Regions from separate parts of the Homo sapiens genome. Here region 1 is linked to region 2. The links come from fine-mapping of genetic effects on gene expression. A gene starts in region 2. The other region holds a variant in brackets. All regions are shown on one strand. Distances are from middle to middle.

Region 1 (9,724 bases), 150 kb before region 2:
CTTTCCTCCTTTCTCTTGTGGGCATTTAGTGCTATAAATGTCCCCCTACACACTGCTTTGAATGTGTCCCAGAGATTCTGGTATGTTGTGTCTTTGTTCTCATTGGTTTCAAAGAACATCTTTATTTCTGCCTTCATTTTGTTATGTACCCAGTGGTCATTCAGGAGCAGGTTGTTCAGTTTCCATGTATTTGAGCAGTTTTGAGTGAGTTTCTTAATCCTGAGTTCTAGTTTGATTGTACTGTGGTCTGAGAGACAGTTTGTTATAATTTCTGTTCTTTTACATTTGCTGAGGAGAGCTTTACTTCCAACTATGTGGTCAATTTTGGAATAGGTGTGGTGTGGTGCTGAAAAGAATGTATAGTCTGTTGATTTGGGGTGGAGAGTTCTGTAGATGTCTATTATGTCCACTTAGTGCAGAGTTGAGTTCAATTCCTGGATATCCTTGTTAACTTTCTGTCTCGTTGATCTGTCTAATGTTGACAGTGGGGTGTTAAAGTCTCCCATTATTATTGTGTGGGAGTCTAAGTCTCTTTGTCGGTCACTAAGGACTTGCTTTATGAATCTGGGTGCTCCTGTATTGGGTGCATATATATTTAGGATAATTAGCTCTTCTTGTTGAATTGATCCCTTTACCATTATGTAATGACCTTCTTTGTCTCTTTTGATCTTTGTTGGTTTAAAGTCTGTTTTATCAGAGACTAGGATTGCAAACCCTGCCTTTTTTTGTTTTCCATTTGCTTGGTAGATCTTCCTCCATCCCTTTATTTGGAGCCTATGTGTGTCTCTGCACGTGAGATGGGTTTCCTGAATACAGCACACTGATGGGTCTTGACCCTATATCCAATTTGCCAGTCTGTGTCCTTTAATTGGAGCATTTAGCCCATTTACATTTAAGGTTAATATTGTTATGTGTGAATTTGGTCCCGTCATTATGATGTTAGCTGGTTATTTTGCTCATTAGTTGATGCAGTTTCTTCCTAGCCTTGATGGTCTTTACATTTTGGCATGTTTTTGCAGTGGCTTGTACTGGTTGTTCCTTTCCGTGTTTAGTGCTTCCTTCAGGAGCTCTTTTAGGGCAGGCCTGGTGGTGACAACATCTCTCAGCATTTGCTTGTCTGTAAAGGATTTTATTTCTCCTTCACTTATGAAGCTTAGTTTGGCTGGATATGAACTTCTGGGTTGAAAATTCTTTTCTTTAAGAATGTTGAATATTGGCCCCCACTCTCTTCTGGCTTGTAGAATTTCTGCCGAGAGATCAACTGTTAGTCTGATGGGCTTCCCTTTGAGGGTAACCCGACGTTTCTTTCTGGCTGCCCTTAACATTTTTTCCTTCCTTTCAACTTTGTTGAATCTGACAATTATGTGTCTTGGAGTTGCTCTTCTTGAGGAGTATCTTTGTGGCATTCTCTGTATTTCCTGAATCTGAATGTTGGCCTGCCTTGCTAGATTGGGGAAGTTCTCCTGGATAATATCCTGCAGAGTGTTTTCCAACTTGGTTCCCTTCTCCCCGTCACTTTCAGGTATACCAATCAGACGTAGATTTGGTCTTTTCACACAGTCCCATATTTCTTGGAGGCTTTGTTCATTTCTTTTTATTCTTTTTTCTCTAAACATCCCTTCCTGCTTCATTTCATTCATTTTGTCTTCCATCACTGATACCCTTTCTTCCAGTTGATTGCATCAGCTCCTGAGGCTTCTGCATTCTTCACTTAGTTCTGGAGCCTTGGCTTTCAGCTCCATCAGGTCCTTTAAGGACTTCTCTGCACTGGTTATTCTAGTTATCCATTCATCTAATTTTTTTTCAAAGTTTTTAACTTCTTTGCCATTGGTTTGAATTTCCTCCTGTAGCTCAGAGTAGTTCGATCATCTGAAGCCTTCTTCTCTCAACTCGTCAAAGTCATTCTCTGTCCAGCTTTGTTCCATTGCTGGTGAGGGCTGCATTCCTTTGGAGGAGGAGAGGTGCTCTGCTTTTTAGAGTTTCCAGTTTTTCTGCTCTGTTTTTTCCTCATCTTTGTGGTTTTATCTACTTTTGGTCTTTGATGATGGTGACGTACAGATGGGTTTTTGGTGTGGATGTCCTTTCTGTTTGTTAGTTTTCCTTCTAACAGACAGGACCCTCAGCTGCAGGTCTGTTGGAGTTTGCTAGGTCCACTCCAGACCCTGTTTGCCTGGGTATCAGCAGCGGTGGCTGCAGAACAGTGGATATTGGTGAACCGCAAATGCTGCTGCCTGATCGTTCCTCTGGAAGTTTTGTCTCAGAGGAGTACCCAGCCGTGTGAGGTGTCAGACTGCGCCTACTGTTGGGTGCCTCCCAGTTAGGCTGCTCGGGGGTCATGGACCCACTTGAGGAGGCAGTCTGCCCATTCTCAGATCTCAAGCTGCGTGCTGGGAGAACCACTACTCTCTTCAAAGCTGTCAGACAGGGACATTTAAGTCTGCAGAGGTTACTGCTGTCTTTTTATTTGTCTGTGCCCTGCCCCCAGAGGTGGAGCCTACAGAGGCAGGCAGGCCTCCTAGAGCTGTGGTGGGCTCCACCCAGTTTGAGCTTCCTGGCTGTTTTGTTTACCTACTGAAGCCTTGGCAATGGCAGGCACCCCTCCCCCAGCCTTGCTGCCACCTTGCAGTTTGATCTCAGACAGCTGTGCTAGCAATCAGAAAGACTCCGTGGGCATAGGACCCTCCAAGCCAGGTGCAGGGTATAATCTCCTGATGTGCCGTTTTTTAAGCCCGTTGGAAAAGCACAGTATTAAGGTTGAAGTGACCCGGTTTTCCAGGTGCTGTCTGTCACCCCTTTCTTTGACTAGGAAAGGGAACTCCCTGACCCCTTGCACTTCCTGAGTGAGGCAATGCCTTGCCCTACTTTGGCTCACACACAGTGCGCTGCACCCACTGTCCTGCACCCACTGTCTGGCACTCCCTAGTGAGATGAACCTGGTACCTCAGATGGAAATGCAGAAATCACCCATTTTCTGTGTCGCTCACGCTGGGAGCTGTAGACCCAAGCTGTTCCTATTTGGCCATCTTGGCTCCACCCCAGGATATACATATCTTCCTTATTTCCCCAAAGCACAAATAAGTTTAGACTGTACATTTAACAAAAGTTAGCAAAGGCTTAAATATAAGAGAAGCACTACACAATGAAATGTGCGATTCCTTTAGAAATAATCACTCAGAGTAAGACAGCTTCTGCTCTCACCTATTGTATTACTACTGTCTGTGAGCAAATATTTGAACAAAAAGCCACACATACCTCCCAAGAGGAAGTACATTCAGGTTTAATAGGAAAAAATCTCTAACTGCAGTGGTTGTTATCAGTGTAACACACACTCAATTATTCTTCCCCTTGCATTCAGGTTAATGCTGCAGATGAGGGAAAGAAAAAGGTTCTGACTTAAGAAGCAGCAAGCAGATGAGAAGCCCAAGTGAAAAACTCTAAGAAGAGTGTTGCCTGTTTGCCTCCCAGGAGAGAAGGCAGACAGAAGGTCCTTGGCAAATACTATGCATTGTGATTAATACAAGAGGAGAGGGAGACATGTTTCCTTCTCTCAAGAGTTTTGAGGCTTCATACCTACTCACGCACTCATTACCACTCATTGATTCCTTGTATCTCATGGTTGGTTCTAGAGCAGACACTGAGAATCTAGAGATGAGTAAAAGAAGTCCCTTTTGAGATTGGGTTTGTTTGTCTCAGCATAATGCTTTCGAGAGTCATCTGAGTTGCCTGTTCTTTTTTTTCTGAGTAGTATTTTACCATATGGATGTTCCACAGTTTGCCTTTCTTTACTTATTCTTGTGCACCTAATTGATTTATCTTGTTTGATTGCATTGGCCAATACCTCCATTATAATGTTGAGCAGTAGTGGAGATGACAAGCATGCTTGCCTTATTCTTGGCAATGCCTCCAATGTTTCCCAGTTAAACAAGTAAGGTTCTGGGTTACAGTAGTATCACTGCTCTGCTTTTCCTCTTCTTAAGATGGAAAGCTCAGATATTTGATTTTAGAACTCTCTTCTTTACTAGCGTAAGTCTGTAAAGCTATAAAATTTCTCTCTGTTTATGTTTGTCCACATTTTTATTTGGAGAGGTGGTAAAAGAAAATATTATTTCAATTATGAAAGCTTTTGTGGGAAAATTGGGGAAAAGACTGGATATTTAAATGTTTGCCAACATGAAA[G/C]GTCTTCCACTGAGGCACCCATTTTGAATGAAACACTTTGAGTCCACTATCAACTCAGCTGGTAGCTACTTGCCTTGTCCCCAGCCACTGAGAGGACAAGGCAAAAGAGAACAGCAAGGAATTCCCCTGCATGGGTCCTTTCTGGCTGCCTCACTGTCAGGGCTCTGAAGAGATGGATTGTGAGCACAGCTTCAACAACAAAACCACATTGTGAAAGGTTAAGAGTTTTTAGTACTTATATACCCTGGGGAATGTTTTGTTTTAAAATATTTCCAAATTTATGAGAGGCGTTGTAAATTCAGGACAAAATATGAATTCATGGTATAGATGTTTTAAAATCATTTACACTTGTCAAGTAAGAATTCTAGCTAGATATTTGACACAAATCCCTTGTAAGCAGTCTCATTTTCATGTTTCATGACCCAGGATTACTGGACCATGCTCTGTTCCATTTTTGGAACCCAACATGATTTTGCCCTGATTGCCCCCCAAAAGGATTTCATCTTCCTCCACTTATACAGCCACTTATACAGAATATTTGATCAGGAAAATTGAAGCATATGTAGGTATAGGTAGGATATATTTTCAAATCCAGGAAATTAGAGGCTGGCCCACCCCTTGGAGGGCTGGGAATGCAGAGGTCTTGGAAGCTTGCTGATGCACAGAGCTGGGTGGTTTTGAGGCGCTCATTTGCTGTGACATGCAGGTAGGTCTGCTCATTGTCTCTCTGCTGTTGCTGCCAGAGAATGGTCCTTCTTCCTTGTCCACCATCCAAATCTCATGTGAATGTCTCATCTTGATTTATTCTCACTTGGACCATACAGTGTAAGAGGTGATGAGAAATATCATTCTAGGCTCCTCCGTGATTCAGAAACAACAGATGATGTTGGAGGTCGAAAGACTGAGGGTCGTGATCAATTCCGTATACCACTGGGGCTATATGAGTAGGCAGCAAACTGTTTCTCATAAATGCAGAATTTTGGCAGACTGACAAACTGCATCTTCCACCCAGAAGGGATATTGAGGGCAGTTACACCCCAAGCACGATGTTTCTTGTGATTAGGTACATCTGAAGCTTGTTAGTAATCATATGAACCTGTGATCAATTAAGAAGCGGACCAGTAGTTACCTCCTGCTCTCTGGCCATTCTACCCAATAAATACGAAGTGCAGTAGAAGCTCAGGGGCTGCTTTTGCTCACTAGAAGGAGGAGTGCTATTCTTCTTCCCCAGTTCCCCTTCCTATAAAAGTTTCTTTTGTCTTAAGCTTTCATTTCTACGTTTGTCCCTTCATTCCGTCTTGTGATGATGGTTTCAAGTAGTAACAGTAGTAACTGTCATAGTGACAGTCTCAAGTAATAACCATGGCAGTCAGCCAAAAGTGGCACCTGAACAGGGACAAACAGGGACTATCAGAGACAAAAAGAGACCTGAAGGGACCTGAAGAGGCCTGCAGGGACAAATAGAGATAAGGAGGGATAAATGGAGATAAATAGACAAATAGGGACAAATAGAGATAGGTAGGGAAAGACAGGGACTTGCAAGAACTTGCAGGAACTAACAGGGGCTATAGGGACTGAGAGGGACAGATAGGGATAGATAAAGACTAGCAAAACTTGCTGGGACAGATAGGGAGAGTTGGGTCCTAAAGGGACTTGAATGAGGAAGGTCTGCTGGAACAGAAAAAACCAAAGCCCAGAAAAAATTAAAACCAACCAGACGAATGAGAAACCCTGTTACAAGTCTGCCTGCAGCAACATAAGGTCAGGGCCCTAGAGGTACAAAGAATGGGAAGTTTTTGAATCAGGGTAACATGGGGAAGAATTTGGCTATTTCTTCGCTCTTTTGTTTGGAGTTCGGTACGTACTATCTTTTTGTTATTTCAGGGTTTTAGGGAATTTTTTGCCCCACCTACAGCACCTATCAAAAGTAGTGAACAGGAGAGGGAGAATGGAAATTGGCTTGTACCATCTTCCTTTGTGGCTACAGAAAGGCTAACTTTAGCTTTGGCTTTCTGGGATTGTAAACCTGCATTGGCACCTGTGAGATGTGCAGAGAACTTGGGAGGTTTTCTCGGAGCTTGTCGGGATGTGGGAACTGAGCTTCATTGCTCTGCAGTATTGACTCAGACAATGGCTAATTTGGTAGCTGACAGATCTAAAAGAAGCCAAGGGTCAAGCCCTAATGTGGGAAAGTGTTATAAGTGTAGAAAAATTGGACATTTCAAAAAAGAACACTGCCAGACCTCTGGGCAAAAGGGATCTTGTAACACAGTTCCCCTCTTAACAGAAAAAATGCCAGGACTTGGCCCTCATTGCAATAAAGGGAATCATTGAGTTAATCAATGCCACTCAAAGTTTCATCAAAATGGCAGCCCCCTCTTGGGAAGTGAGAAGGGGGCCTGGACCCTGGCACCTCAAAAAATGAGGGCATTCCCTGTCCAGAGAACAGCTTCATTTCAGGGATTGGTTTCCAGAGGCATATTGATTCCCTCTCCCCAGGAACACCTGGAAGCGCAGGATTAGATGGCCCAGTTAGAGAGCAGGTTACGTTAATTGGAAGAAACAAACTCACTAAGATTCCCATTGGCATTTGTGGACCTTTGCCAACAGGATACATGGGATTAATTTTGGGCAAAAGCTGTCTTAACTTACAGGCCCAGGAGTTGGTAATTGGGATTGTGAAGGAGAAATTCAAGCAGTGGTAACGTCACAAGATCTTTGGGTTTTTGAACCAGGAGAATATATTGCTCAACTGTTGCTTATTCCCTATAAATTGTACCCCTCTCTACATAAGAAGAAGTGAGGAGGTCAGGGATTTGGAAGTGCAACTGGGAGAGAGACTTACCTATCACAACCCGTGGCATCTAATAGACCCACCTATACAGTGCAAATCAAAGGAAAGAAGTTTTATGGGCTTATGGATATAGGAGCTGATGTGTCAGTGTGTCAGTAATATCTAAAAACAATTGGCCCCTATCTCGGTCCCTAAAACTATCTTCTACATCCCTAGTGGGAGTAGGAACAGCTCAAAGTGTTCAACAGAGTGCTGAGATTCTGTCATGTCTCAGACTGGATGGGCGGTTCGTGTTTTGTGTCTCAAGGTTTAAAGGAGTCTTTTGCCCTGCACGTTGAACCCACCGGGGGTGGAGGGCAGGAGAGGGAGGATGAGAATTGGCCTGTACTGCCCTTTTCAGTAGTAGAGACACCTGTACTATCTTCTGAAGCAGAAACAGAGACCCTAATAGTTAGGCAGGAATATCATCACCCCTATTCAGCCTGAAGAAGTTACAGAAGACAGATCTTCATCCCTCTGCAACCCTTAGGATTAAGGGTCCTCTTGTAAAGGGGGAGATATGTCAGAGGCATTCAAACCAGGGCCGTTTCACTTGTTTCTGGGACTTCAACAAGCTGTTCACTCTCATGCTGCTCCTTTTCATGTTTCTAATGTTCACCCTCACACACTGCTCCCTGGGCTGCTCTCTTTGGGTGGTGATGGAATGAGAGACTGGAGAAGGATAAGCCTCGATTTGCTCTCTGTGTGCCTTCTGTTAATCAGAAAGAGCCAGCCTCTCATTATCAATGGAAAGTTTTACCCTGCGGTAATTAACCAAAGAGACAGAAGCTGAGTTACAGGTTGCAGAGCAGACGCTTCAGCAACGGCATGCCTCCCGGCTACAGCCACAAAAACTTTTTGCTTCTGCTTTGCTAGATTTACTAACGTGGGGGCGAGGGTATGCTTGTGTTTTCACAGCAAATGAACAAACCATGTGGGTGCCCTCAAGGTGTGTACAACCATGGAACAGGAGATTGGAGGGAACCATGGATCCCAGCCACAGGCCTGGTTCCCCCAGTGTGAGCCATGAGCCAGTTGAATCTGAATGTGAAGACGAACGAACCACCAACCAGCAATTGAAGGCTGCACATTTTGCAATTGCCTTATTCAATTAATTCAAAAACAAAAAGGGAGAAATGTTGGAGGACAAAAGATTGAGGGTCGTGGTCAATTCAGCATACCACTGGAGGCTATATGAGTAGGCAGCAAACTGTTTCTCAAATGCAGAATGTTGGCAGACCGACAAACTGTGTCTTCCACCCAGAAGGGATACTGAGGGCAGTGACGGCCAAGTGCAATGTTTGTTGTGATTAGGTACATCTGAAGCCTGTTAGTAATAATGTGAACCTGTGTTCAATTAAGCAGCTGACCAATCATTACCTTCTGCTCCCTGGTCATTCTACCCAATAAATACGAAGCGTGGTAGAAGCTCAGGGGCGGCCTTTGCTCACTAGAAGCAGGGAGCCCTTTTCTTCTTCCCCAGTTCCCTTTCCTTTAAAATGGTTTCTTTTGTCTTAAGTTTTCATTTCTATGTTCGTCCCTTCATTCAGTCTTGTAATGACGGTCTCAAGTAGTAACAGTAGTAACTGTCATAGTGACAGTCTCAAGTAATAACCATGGCAGTCAGCCACAAGATGATTTGGCACTGCTGAAGCATTCATAGAGCAGCATTCATCATCTATCTGACCTTTTTGTGGGAAATGTTTCCTAGCCCATTCAAGACACTTATGCTCATTGATGCTGGGTATACCCAGGACAAAGTAGTTTTGATCTTGTATTTTGACTACTTGCTATCTGTCTCCTACAGTTATGGCTGATGAAGAACACTTCCTTATTCACCATTGGATTCCAATATCCTGGAGTGTGTGAAGCACTCGTTAAATATTTTTCACCCATTTGGCAGTGGTACATCCCCCTTGCCCTTGGAGAATGGTAAAACTTGGCTCAAGCTGCATTTCCACAGCACACAGAATCCAAACTCCCTCCTGCAGGGAGCTTTCTGCACTCACTTCCTCATCCTTCCCCTACTTCCTCCTGCGTGTGCCACTGTCCTCTGTCTTACCCCATTTCATGCACTTGCAGTTCATTCACTTGAAGTTCAGTTTTCTGCCTAGTTTCCACCATCATAATAGTGATCAGCATTATGTAAGCTTCAGCAGCTTTCCTAGAGATTTTGAGTTACAGGGGAAGGTACCAAAGACAGCACTGGGCATTTCTATACCAAGCTCACTCTCCTCCCTCTGGCTTGGAAAGAGAAACTGTTTATCCCTCTACACCCAGGAGGAAACAACTCTGGAGTTGCTTAATAAATTGTCATCTTCTCAGGAATGCAGATGACTGATCAATTCCAGGATGTTAGAGAGCCTGACACCCACTGGAGCACTTCCTACTATTGTTTTAACTTTCCAAAAACAAGAAACAGACTGTCCTTTCCCCTTTGCCCTGTGGTGACCAGACATGACCTTCATTTTTGCTTTCTCTTTCCACTCTACAGTCACCAATGAAGGTCTCCTTCTGGCAGCTCTGCCTGGGTCAGATTCTGTTGGTTTTCTCTCCTGGGGCTGTCACTCTGTGGTTGTCAGGTGGCCCAGGATGGGGAATAACTCCCTTCTGTTCCAGTAGGAGGATTAAGACACTTACTTTGAGCTCTGGTCCCAGCTCTGGTCTCTACTCCATCTTTATTAGAAAGTCATATCCTTCTGGTAAAAAGACGGT
Region 2 (9,724 bases):
TCTTGCTGTGTTTTCCCTTCTCTGAAAAAGCAAATAGGCAGCCACTGTGGTCCTTGCTTAGGCTCCCAGGATACAGAAGCATCCCCAGGCCAGGAACCCCATGTCCTGGATCTGGGAAAACCTGGCCTTGACAGAGACGGTGGGGCAGCTTGGGAGCACTGCTTGGGGCAGAATCTGACAGAATCTCCTGATAGCTTCAGGAGAGGAGGTCTGATAGCTTCAGGAGAGGAGGAACCAGAGATCTTGGGGTGGGATATGTTAAAAGACAATGTGCACCCCAAGAAGCCTGGGCCAGTCCTACAGATGTGCCTGTTGGTAACTCTGATACCCCATGATGTCAAATGTCAATAGTAATTTCAGACAGAAGGAAAGCAAGACCCAGACAGCAGGACTTTGTATATTATATTTTTTTCATCAAAAGTAGAGCTTCCCAACTTTTTCATGTCGATGTCCACATGGTAACATTTGTCACAACATAGTGTGTAAACAGAAGAGGCTGCTCTCAACCTCAGATGCAACTGATCTCAGGCCTCGAGCCACCTTGGGGTTTTGGGGGGCTCTTTGTCTCCCCTCTGAAGGGTGAGGGGGAAAATATCTCAACAAACCTATAATTGATAGACAGCTCAAGGGCCGAGAATTTCCAATGTAATGACTCAAAAGGAAATCAGCCTGGTGAGGGTACACCTCAGCAAGCTCAGAAACATTATTCGTGACAGGAAGATATCAGCTTGTGGATCCCAAGATGCTCACCAGGAGACATTCAGTTGCAGGTGATAATGTCAGGGTAGAGGAGGGTCTCATTAGGCTTTCAGGAGGGTCCACCCCACTCCAGATGCAACAGGAGCTGTCCTCCATGGTGCCAGCCAGGAAATCTTCAGGGACCTTATCATCCCATCTGGACCTCATCTAACTCATCTAATAAACAACTAGAGGAGAGCGTCAAGGCATGCATTCAGTCCTGCTGCTCCCTCTTGGCCTTTTGAGCTAACTAAATGGGTGAAGGTTCTACTCTAAATGCAATGCTATGGAATTAGACAACTAGACATCAGCTACCCAGACAACTCCAGAGGTCATGACAACAAGCTCTTAAACCTGCTCTAGGCACTGTCCTGCCCTGACACCTACATACTCTCTGCTTCCTTTAAAATAACCGCTTCAAAGGGCCCCTTCTCCACCTCCAGTCAACCTTGATCACATGTCCAAGTTCTACTCCACACCTCAGGGCTTTCTCCTTGGGGTTGGTCCGTTTTGACCTCTTTTCTTCCCAAAATCCTGCTTAATACATTGTCTAAAACTGTGCTATCATGTATTTTTTACCATGACCCTCAGTTTTATACTGCTTCCCAGAGCTTACATACACTCATATTTTGTGTGACTAATTTTGATAGTTTCTATTCTACTCTATTTCATGTTTTGATGCTCTACAATGGGGTGTATGAAATACACTTGTCCAAAACATTCATTTGGGACCCTTACTCATTGTCTTTCATTTGCATAAGTCTTGTCTCTCTAATAAGATTTCAGATTCCTTACGAGGGTGGCTTTTTGTCTGCTTCCCATGGGTGCTGTCTGGACTTACCACCCATTAGGTCTGGTGTGGTGCAAAGGCTCAGGAGAATAGGGTAAATTTGCTTCAAAAGATGCAATATTTAGATACTTAGAGTGTACTTCATGGCATCGTTAATCCTTCCTCCATGTTGTATGTCAACTGTGGGCTCAAATAGTGGCCCCTTTTATTGACCTGGATGTTTCTGAATCCTCAACTCTACCTCCTGGATTCACCCCTAGATGATCTCCGCCCCCACCGTGAAGCCTCTTCAGCAGCTGTGGTCTCTGTAGAGCACCCTGATCCAGGAGGCTCCTTTCCTCACCTCCAATTAGAGGCGCCCCTGACCTGGACCCTCTCAGCCCTGAAAAGAGTAGCCATGACCTTGTCCAGACACAAAGGAAATAATAATGTTGATAATATAGAAATGCCTGCATTTTAATACTTTTTTTCAGCATCTTTTACCTGCTCTTTGATTTTCGTAAGAACACAATGTTCTAAAAAAAAGTTCCAAGAAAGAACTTTTTTTAGAGTGACTACCGACAAGGAAGAGAAATCACACTTCAGCATTTGGCTTCAGGGCCTCCCAACATTGACTTGGGGTTTCATTTCCACATTTCCCACTAGTCATGTTCATAGGAGACCTTCATGGAATAGGGTGAGATGATGGATGAAGAGACAGAGGCCAGATGGTGAAAGACAGCAAGCATGACTAAGAGTTAGGAGACCTTGTGGTGACCAACAGGCTCACTTTGACTGGGACTAAGGGGTTTCCCAGGACGTGGGCCTTGTAGTACTAAATCCAGTCAAATTCAGGGCAAGTTGGCGGTTGGTCACCTAGGACCTCAGCCCAGTGGCTCAGGAGAAAGTGGTAAATGCCATGCCTCCTCTTTCCCTCATTCTCCCTTCCTCCTTCATCAGAAGGCAATAATTGTCTGTCTCCCATTTCAAACAGAAGGTCCAAGGCATGAACCCAGGGGTCCTTGAATCACTCCAAGTTGGTAGGGAAGGTGGCTGCCCAAAATGTCTCCGAGATGGAGCTTTGGCATCTCCTCAGCTTAATAAAGCTGATTCTCAGGGCAGCCTACAGGTATCTACTCTGAGATGGCTACTGCACTCAGAACTCCAGAAACTTCATCACATAGCTAGAGCACATGAGTTGCAACTCAGCGTGCTCAGTTCTGTGCACCAGGGAGCATCACAGAGAGAAAGCAGGGATAGCAGAGGTGGCTGGGGATGGATAGAGACATGCTTTCAGTAATGATTCATCATATTTTGTACTATGTCAGGTTTGGTAGAGAACTGTCTCTGTCCAGGCTGAAAAGGGATTGAATTTGGTGTCAAACAGAAGGGTAGGGAAAATGGCCACTTCCTCGGTGTCCCAGGTTTCCTGGGGGTTTGTTTGTTTTGCAAATCTGAACAGAGGAATAGAGAGGGTGTGGAAAAAGGCACAAAGAGTCTAGTTTTGGAAATCCTTTCATATCTGGATATATACGAATTTCTACAACCCTACTTTCTGAAAGTAGCTACCTAAGATTATTCTTCTAGCACTAAATGTAACTACAAAAGGGGACATGAGGGAAGAGTTAGAGCATTTAAGTTGTATGTTTTACTGATTTACTCAGTAAGTATTTTTGAGCACTTTCTAGGGCTAAGTTCTAGCAAGATCCTGACCTAAAGACAGTCCCTGGCCTCTAAAAAGCCCACGATCTCACCCAGAAAACTGATAGAGACCAGTTAACACATTTCATCATTGACTCCCTGGGGTCTCTTTGAGCCATAAGAGGAGCCTGGGAACTGCTAGAGAAGAGATAAGACTTAGAGAACAGATCTCAAAGCAGAAAATCAGTCCTTAGCTGGGGTGCCAGAGCACCCAGTTCAGTGGATAAAAATAATGTTTGCAAATAGTTCAAACCAAAAGGAAAGAAGAGAAGGAGTTTGAAGATGTTGCCAGAATTAAGTGAATTTGCTACATTGATGGGAATGGTTAGCTTCGGTGCCCCTCACTGTTTATAAGATTTTGATGTGAACTCTGTTGGTCAAGTTTTTGAAAGATTCCAGCCAGGTGCTGGGGGAGTACCTGGTCCCTATCTAGCAAGGGTGAAATCCTGGTCAGATTACAGCCCACTTTCTGCCCTGCTCTGCTCAATTCACATAAATTATGAGTGCTGACTAGGTTGAAAGTCCTTGAAGAATTTAAAAATGTAAGGGCGAATAAAAATCAAAAATAAGGAGAAAACATTAATTCTCTTTTCTGGGGAAAAAACAAAGTGGAAAAGAATTACCCCTCCCTTCTTAGAGCATTTTCTTTAGAAACCTTGTAAGTGTGAAATCTTTCTCTACCCTTTGTAATGCAAATCTTTTTAAAAGCTGTTTGACAGCCCAGGGCTGTCTGTAGAGCATCTGGAAGCCATCCCTTTGAAATGCAAACATCAAGGAAGGTAGCGTCCCCACCTCCCAGTCTCTGTGTGAAAATAGGGGCCTAATTTAGGAGCCTAACTTAGGTAGGAGCCTGACATCTGCCAGCACCTTTCTGAGTTGCAAATCTTCCTCTTGCCATAGAGGATGTGAGAAGTTTACTTTTCCTCTGGAAAGACAATTAGCCAACACAGATGATTACTGAGTGAATTTAGGATGAACTATGCATGTCAAAGGGTGCTGTCAAGTCCTCTTACTTGAGGATTAGTTATGGTTTAACTTGAGAACACGTGTGTAATAGGTGGCACCTGCCTGGCTGTATAACCAGGTGGCATCCCTCTCCGTCTTTGCAATCTCTTCCTGGATTGTCTGGGATCCAGATCACATTCTGGTTCAATGGACATTCAATAATAAAATTGTTTTCTTTCTCTTCTGCCTCTGTGGAGAGGTTTTCTGGGCTAGCAGGAGATTGTTTAAAATTGTTTTCCCATCAAGTCTTAGACAATTGTTACCATATGACTGTAAGCCCCACTTCAAATGTCAACAGAAAAGGATATGGGGATTCTCTGGGCCATGACGGCCCTCCGCCTAAGTCCCACTGTGTTCTCCATCGCATAATTGCCTTATGTCCACTGCCCTAACCTTAAATGGCAATCAGGTTTATGTCCACTGCCCTAACCTTAAATGGCAATCAGGTTTATGTCCACTGCTCTAGCCTTAAATGGCAATCAATTCAAAAATAGAGGTTCTATCACCCTGCTTTCAACCCTTACCAGATAAACTGACACGTAGACTCCACAATGTCCCCACAGGGTGGGCTCCATCACGTGCCAGACAGCTTACCAGGGTCAGTCACGAGCCCAGAGTCAAACCCTGCAAGGGCTTGTTCTGGTCCTCTTTGGACCAGAGTGCCTTTCTGATCCTGGTTAGCAGAAACTTTCCAGAAGCAGAGCCTGTGAGAAGGGGCCCAAGAGTGCTGGGAGGAGAAGGTGCCCCGGTGATGGGTGCTGAGGGCAGCAGCTGCTGCCCAGAACTTTCCAGTCACTAGGGACCTTTTCTGAACTTGGAAGTGGGAGAGTCTGTAATTCCCTTCATATCTCCTTCTTCCAAATACTGCTTGCTTGAAACAGTCAAAAAAAAAAAAAAAAGGAAATGGGATGGGGCACACTGTCCCAGGGCAGGCTCATGACAGGAAGTGACCCGTTAAGGAAGCAGCACATCGCTGCATTCGGCTGGTTTTCAGGGTCTTGTTCCCAATCAGTTTCCAGCCAACACCAGGGTGTCCTAGTCCGCAGAGGTGTGGGGGACACACTCCATAATCTCTACTTTTCTTTTTGTGCAGCTGAGTCATGGAGCTTTCAGCCCCAGCACATGGCTCCTCCTTAACTGCGTCTGCTCAACCTCCCTCAGCCCTGTGAACAGCATCCCCGCACACAGACGCAGAGCAGGACTCTCTCTGCTGCCACTTCACCTTCCTGAGAGAGGACCAGCGGCCAGAGCCTCAGTGACTGCCACCCTGGAGGACAGGGCACAACAACCGTTTCTGGTAAGGAGAACTGGGTTTATGCTCACAGAGACTTTGGGAATTGAAAGGATCACAGTTTGGTCACAGCTGTTCATTTCTGACATGACCTTGCACAGATCCCCTCACTTCTGGGTTCGCTGGTCAGTAAAACGGGGCAATGGTGATGAGTGTTGCGGGCATCAGCAGGTGCACAGCTGGTGGAGCACAGCCTGAAGAATCTGTGCCTGCACTCACAGCCCAGTCCCAGGACAGCGGGCTTTGCTGCCCCATTGCCCATTACTTAGCCAAGTCGATCTCCATGAAACTCTCAGGGAGTAAGGCTGAACTGATCCTCTCATCAGTGGGACAGATGGGAGAACTGAAGCTCCCAGAGGGTGATAGGCTTTCCCCCATCTCCCCTAGCATGCCGGGGCATTCTTCTCAATTTTACCCTCCTAATTTCTCCTGTCCCAGACCAGCCAGACACGTACCATGTCTCAGACAAGCCTGGGAGCTGAGGATGGATTCTTAGGGCTCCCCAGGGCAAATGTGGGATATTTTCCCACCCCAGGAGCCTCATGTTCCAAACAAGACCCCTGAGTGGACCTTGTCTTGTGACTTTCAACTTCTGAAAACTACCCCATGCTCCCCCAGATGCCCCACATTTTTCCTATGACACCCTGCCGGACGCACACCAAACCGCAAAACACATGATTCCAATACCTGGAAATACATGGGCTGGGGCAGATGGGTGAAGGAGATACTTATGAACAAGGAAGACAAGAAGTGGTTTGATCTTTTCTAAAATAGTATGGAAGAGGCTGCTTTCTTGTAATTTGCTAAAATAAGCTCTTCTCATGGTAAAATCAGGTTCATGCAATTTTCAAATCGGAATGTGCATTTTGTTCATTTGCTTCACCCTTTTCCCTGAGCCAGACCCTCCCACCAGCTTGCCAGAGGCTGCTACTGTCTTGCTTGCACACTGCCTTCCAATCTCTCATGAACTTTGGTCTCTTTTGTGGGACGATTAGTAAAATTTTTCCTTTGGAGAAGACGCCTGTCTTCATTCTCAATTCCTCCACTTTTGTCTGCCCTGTAGACCAACACGTATCACATTCCTTCAAGCCTACGGTGTGTCCACCACGCTCTATTCAGTTCTTTTATAATCTTCTCCATGACTCATTTTAGCATTGCCATCAGTATCCTTTCTGACTCACCTGTGAACACTTTGTTATTTGTGAATATCTGCCAAAAAATGTATTCCTCAATGCAGCCTGATCCACTCAGAAAGCTTGGATTGGGAGAGCTATTGTTGCTGGTCATTGGCTAACATAACATAGTTTGACTGGCTTTTGTGACAGGCAATTGGCTGTTTTAAAAGAAAAGACCTCAATTCAGAGAAACTCCTGCCACCAGCAATTTTATTTTTGAATAACCTTTTATAAGAAATGCACTCAAGATTTTGCAATAAAATTCTGTGTGTTGGTTTTAGGGTAGGCTTCTAGCTGTCCAATTAATTTGTCTCCTGACCAGGGAGTGGCAGCATTGTACACATGTTCCAAGAGGTTTGTTGACTTTTTTGGAAAAGTCTCTTTTTCCACCTGTGGAATCAAGGACAATACACAGCAAAAGGAGCCATTTCCTGATGCTAGCTCCATTGTAAATATGTGACCTTTGGCAGGTCATTTAATGCTCAGTTTCCTTGCATTTTAATAGAAATTTTAAGATCAGTTTTGATCACATCACAGGGAATTTGAGAGAGCAATTAAAATAAGAAGGATGAAATAACTTTGAAAATTATAAATGTATTCACAGAGGCTTATTACAATTATGATGTTCATAATCAATATCATTACCACTGTCATCTTGACCCTTACCACATCATTATGTTGATTCCAAACCTCAGAAAACGTCATCTAAAGTAGAGAGGATGTCAGGGAACTGGTGCTATTTTAGCAAAAGCCAGAAGCATAATTTACCAGAGACGAGAACAGGGTGTGGGAGAGAGGAAAATGTTCTTCTCTGGGCTTAAGAAAAAGAAAGAAAGGAGAGAGGGGAGGGTAAAGAGGAAAGGAGGAAGAAAAGAAAGAAGGGAAAGGGAGGGAGGCAGGAAGCTGTCTTAATACATTCTGATAATATAAAAATAGATTTCTTGACCTAAAGAAGGCCAAGAAAATCCACTGAATGAATAGAAAAATGTGGAAAAGATAGAAATCACAGAAGTTATTAAAAATTGAAGTTTATAAATTACCAAAATAGCAAATAAACCATGAAAACTGTTTTTAATTTAATGATAATCAGTAAAATGTAAGTTTAAGCCAATTAAGACATCCTTATTTATGCCCATAAGGATGACAGGAAATTAAAAGTGTAATATTACTAAGTGCCTGTGAAGATTTGGGGACTTCTTATAAATGGGTGGTGCAAATAGGAGTTAACTCAACTCCCTGGGAGTCATATTTGGCAATAACCAGTCACGTGGAAAATGTACATCCCCAATACTGTTGCACAATGCTGGAAACCCGGAGCAGGCAATGAGTTGTTCTTGAATTCGGCCTGAAGTTGATTCTTTCTCTTCAATCACCTCACTACCTCCTCTCCACCAACCGTCAGGGTGGGAAAGCGGTCATACCGGTCCCCCTATACCATTTCCTCTCACGTCAGTTCTTCGTGTCCCTGATCCCCACTTCCATCCTCCCACTGGACAGTACCTTGTAATTTCCTCTCCGCCGCTGGAATGTCCATTTGACACAAAGACTTTCTGGGACTGGAAGTTTCCACTACTTCAAATAAACCAATCTTATTTACAGCAAGGCAATTTTTTTTTCTCTATTCTGGTAAGTTTGTTACTTTAATTTCAATTTTTTTAATGCCTACTCTTTGTTCCATAGAAGAATGCTTTCTCCATTTCATGCCTTTCTGGTTGGGGGAGATAATCAACTGATTTGCTTCAAAATATTTCCTGATTTTCTGTAAGTTGAGGGGAGGGAAGTAATCGTGCACTATTTTAGCATAACCTAACATCTAACATCACCTGCTTTGTTTAAAGTTATTTACAGATGTTTCAAAGTAAAGTATGAGTTAGAAAATTAGGGATGGAAATGGCTCATTTGAGAATGATTATTCTTAGATGTCTGAATTGAGGTGCCCTCAGGCTCTACCAGCTCCCAAACGTACATCTGCTTTTTATCCTTTTCCTGTTTTTATTCCAGGAGAGAATGGGAGGATTCCAGAGGGGCAAATATGGAACTATGGCTGAAGGTAAGAAAGTCTTGAAGTTCTCAAGAGCCCCAGACACTTGGGAGAATCACAATTCTCTCCCCATCTACCCCCATCTAAAACACAGTGGCAGAAACCCATTCATTTTAAATGAAGAAGATAAAGGCAACTATCATCACGTGTGTGTTATCAAACCATCACACACACACACAGACACACACACACACCATAGTGTGATGCTCTCCCTGCATCAGGTATGTGGGAAATGTGGAAAGGAAACCAAGTCATAGGTTGAAGGGTCTGGAAGCAAATGGTGAATATGTTTTCTCTTTCTTTGTCTGCTGACAGCTCAAAAAGAAAAGGTCCCCATAGGGATTTAGTCATTGTGCTTGCTACAAAACACCACAGAATAACTTAAGAAAACGAAGAACCAACCCAGAGTGGGAGAAATAAAATAATAGATTTTTAAGAGCCTAAAATGCACTTCGAATTCATTTGGGCTCTAGAAATCCACAGGTTCTCCCCTCTTCGTGCCTGAAGATTTTCGCTCCTGCCACAGTGTCACCCTCTCCAACACCACTTCTGCTATAATTTTGTGTGCTTCAATCAGCCACATAGATGAGCTTTTCAACACACATGCTTCTATTGAGCTTATCTTCCACCTTTTTGAGCCATCCACCCTAGGGTCATCTCCCAGACGCTGCCCTAACATTAACTACAACCTATGTCATCTCAATTTCAAACATTTCACTCCCTATCCAGAGGGCACAGACCCAGGGACAGGCAGCTGACCCCCGGCAGTGGGTCACTATAGATTTGCCAGTGGAGACCTCCTTGACCCTCAAGACTTGGATGAATGTGTGGAGTGTGTCTATACAAGTGTGCCTGGAAATGTGTGGGTGAAAGAGAAGTAATTGGATTTTCTCACTTGTAACTACTAATCCCCTGCCTCTTTCTAATAATTCTCCATGGAGCTGGCCTAAACACCACGCAGGGGAAAACACAAGGACCATTTTCTTTCAGGAAAGCTCTATTTG

What was found. PIP is the estimated chance that this variant, and not a neighbour inherited with it, causes the effect.
Region 1: its variant is fine-mapped to the expression of GIMAP5 in whole blood (TOPMed, PIP above 0.99).

Annotation. Positions count from the first base shown.
Region 1 is chr7:150,577,585-150,587,308 of GRCh38, forward strand. No RefSeq gene overlaps it. Among named protein-coding and RNA genes, the nearest start is that of GIMAP4, 15 kb to the left of the region's middle. RefSeq lists an enhancer at 8,942-9,121. The variant G/C (reference allele first, on the strand shown) is at 4,177.
Region 2 is chr7:150,732,199-150,741,922 of GRCh38, forward strand. GIMAP5 (GTPase, IMAP family member 5) reads left to right here and starts at 5,220. Exons shown (of 3, transcript NM_018384.5): 1 at 5,220-5,510; 2 at 8,681-8,729. The coding sequence starts at 8,687. It overlaps GIMAP1-GIMAP5 (GIMAP1-GIMAP5 readthrough), which reads left to right. Exons shown (of 5, transcript NM_001303630.2): 3 at 5,307-5,510; 4 at 8,681-8,729. RefSeq lists enhancers at 1,182-1,321, 3,355-4,341, 5,217-5,296.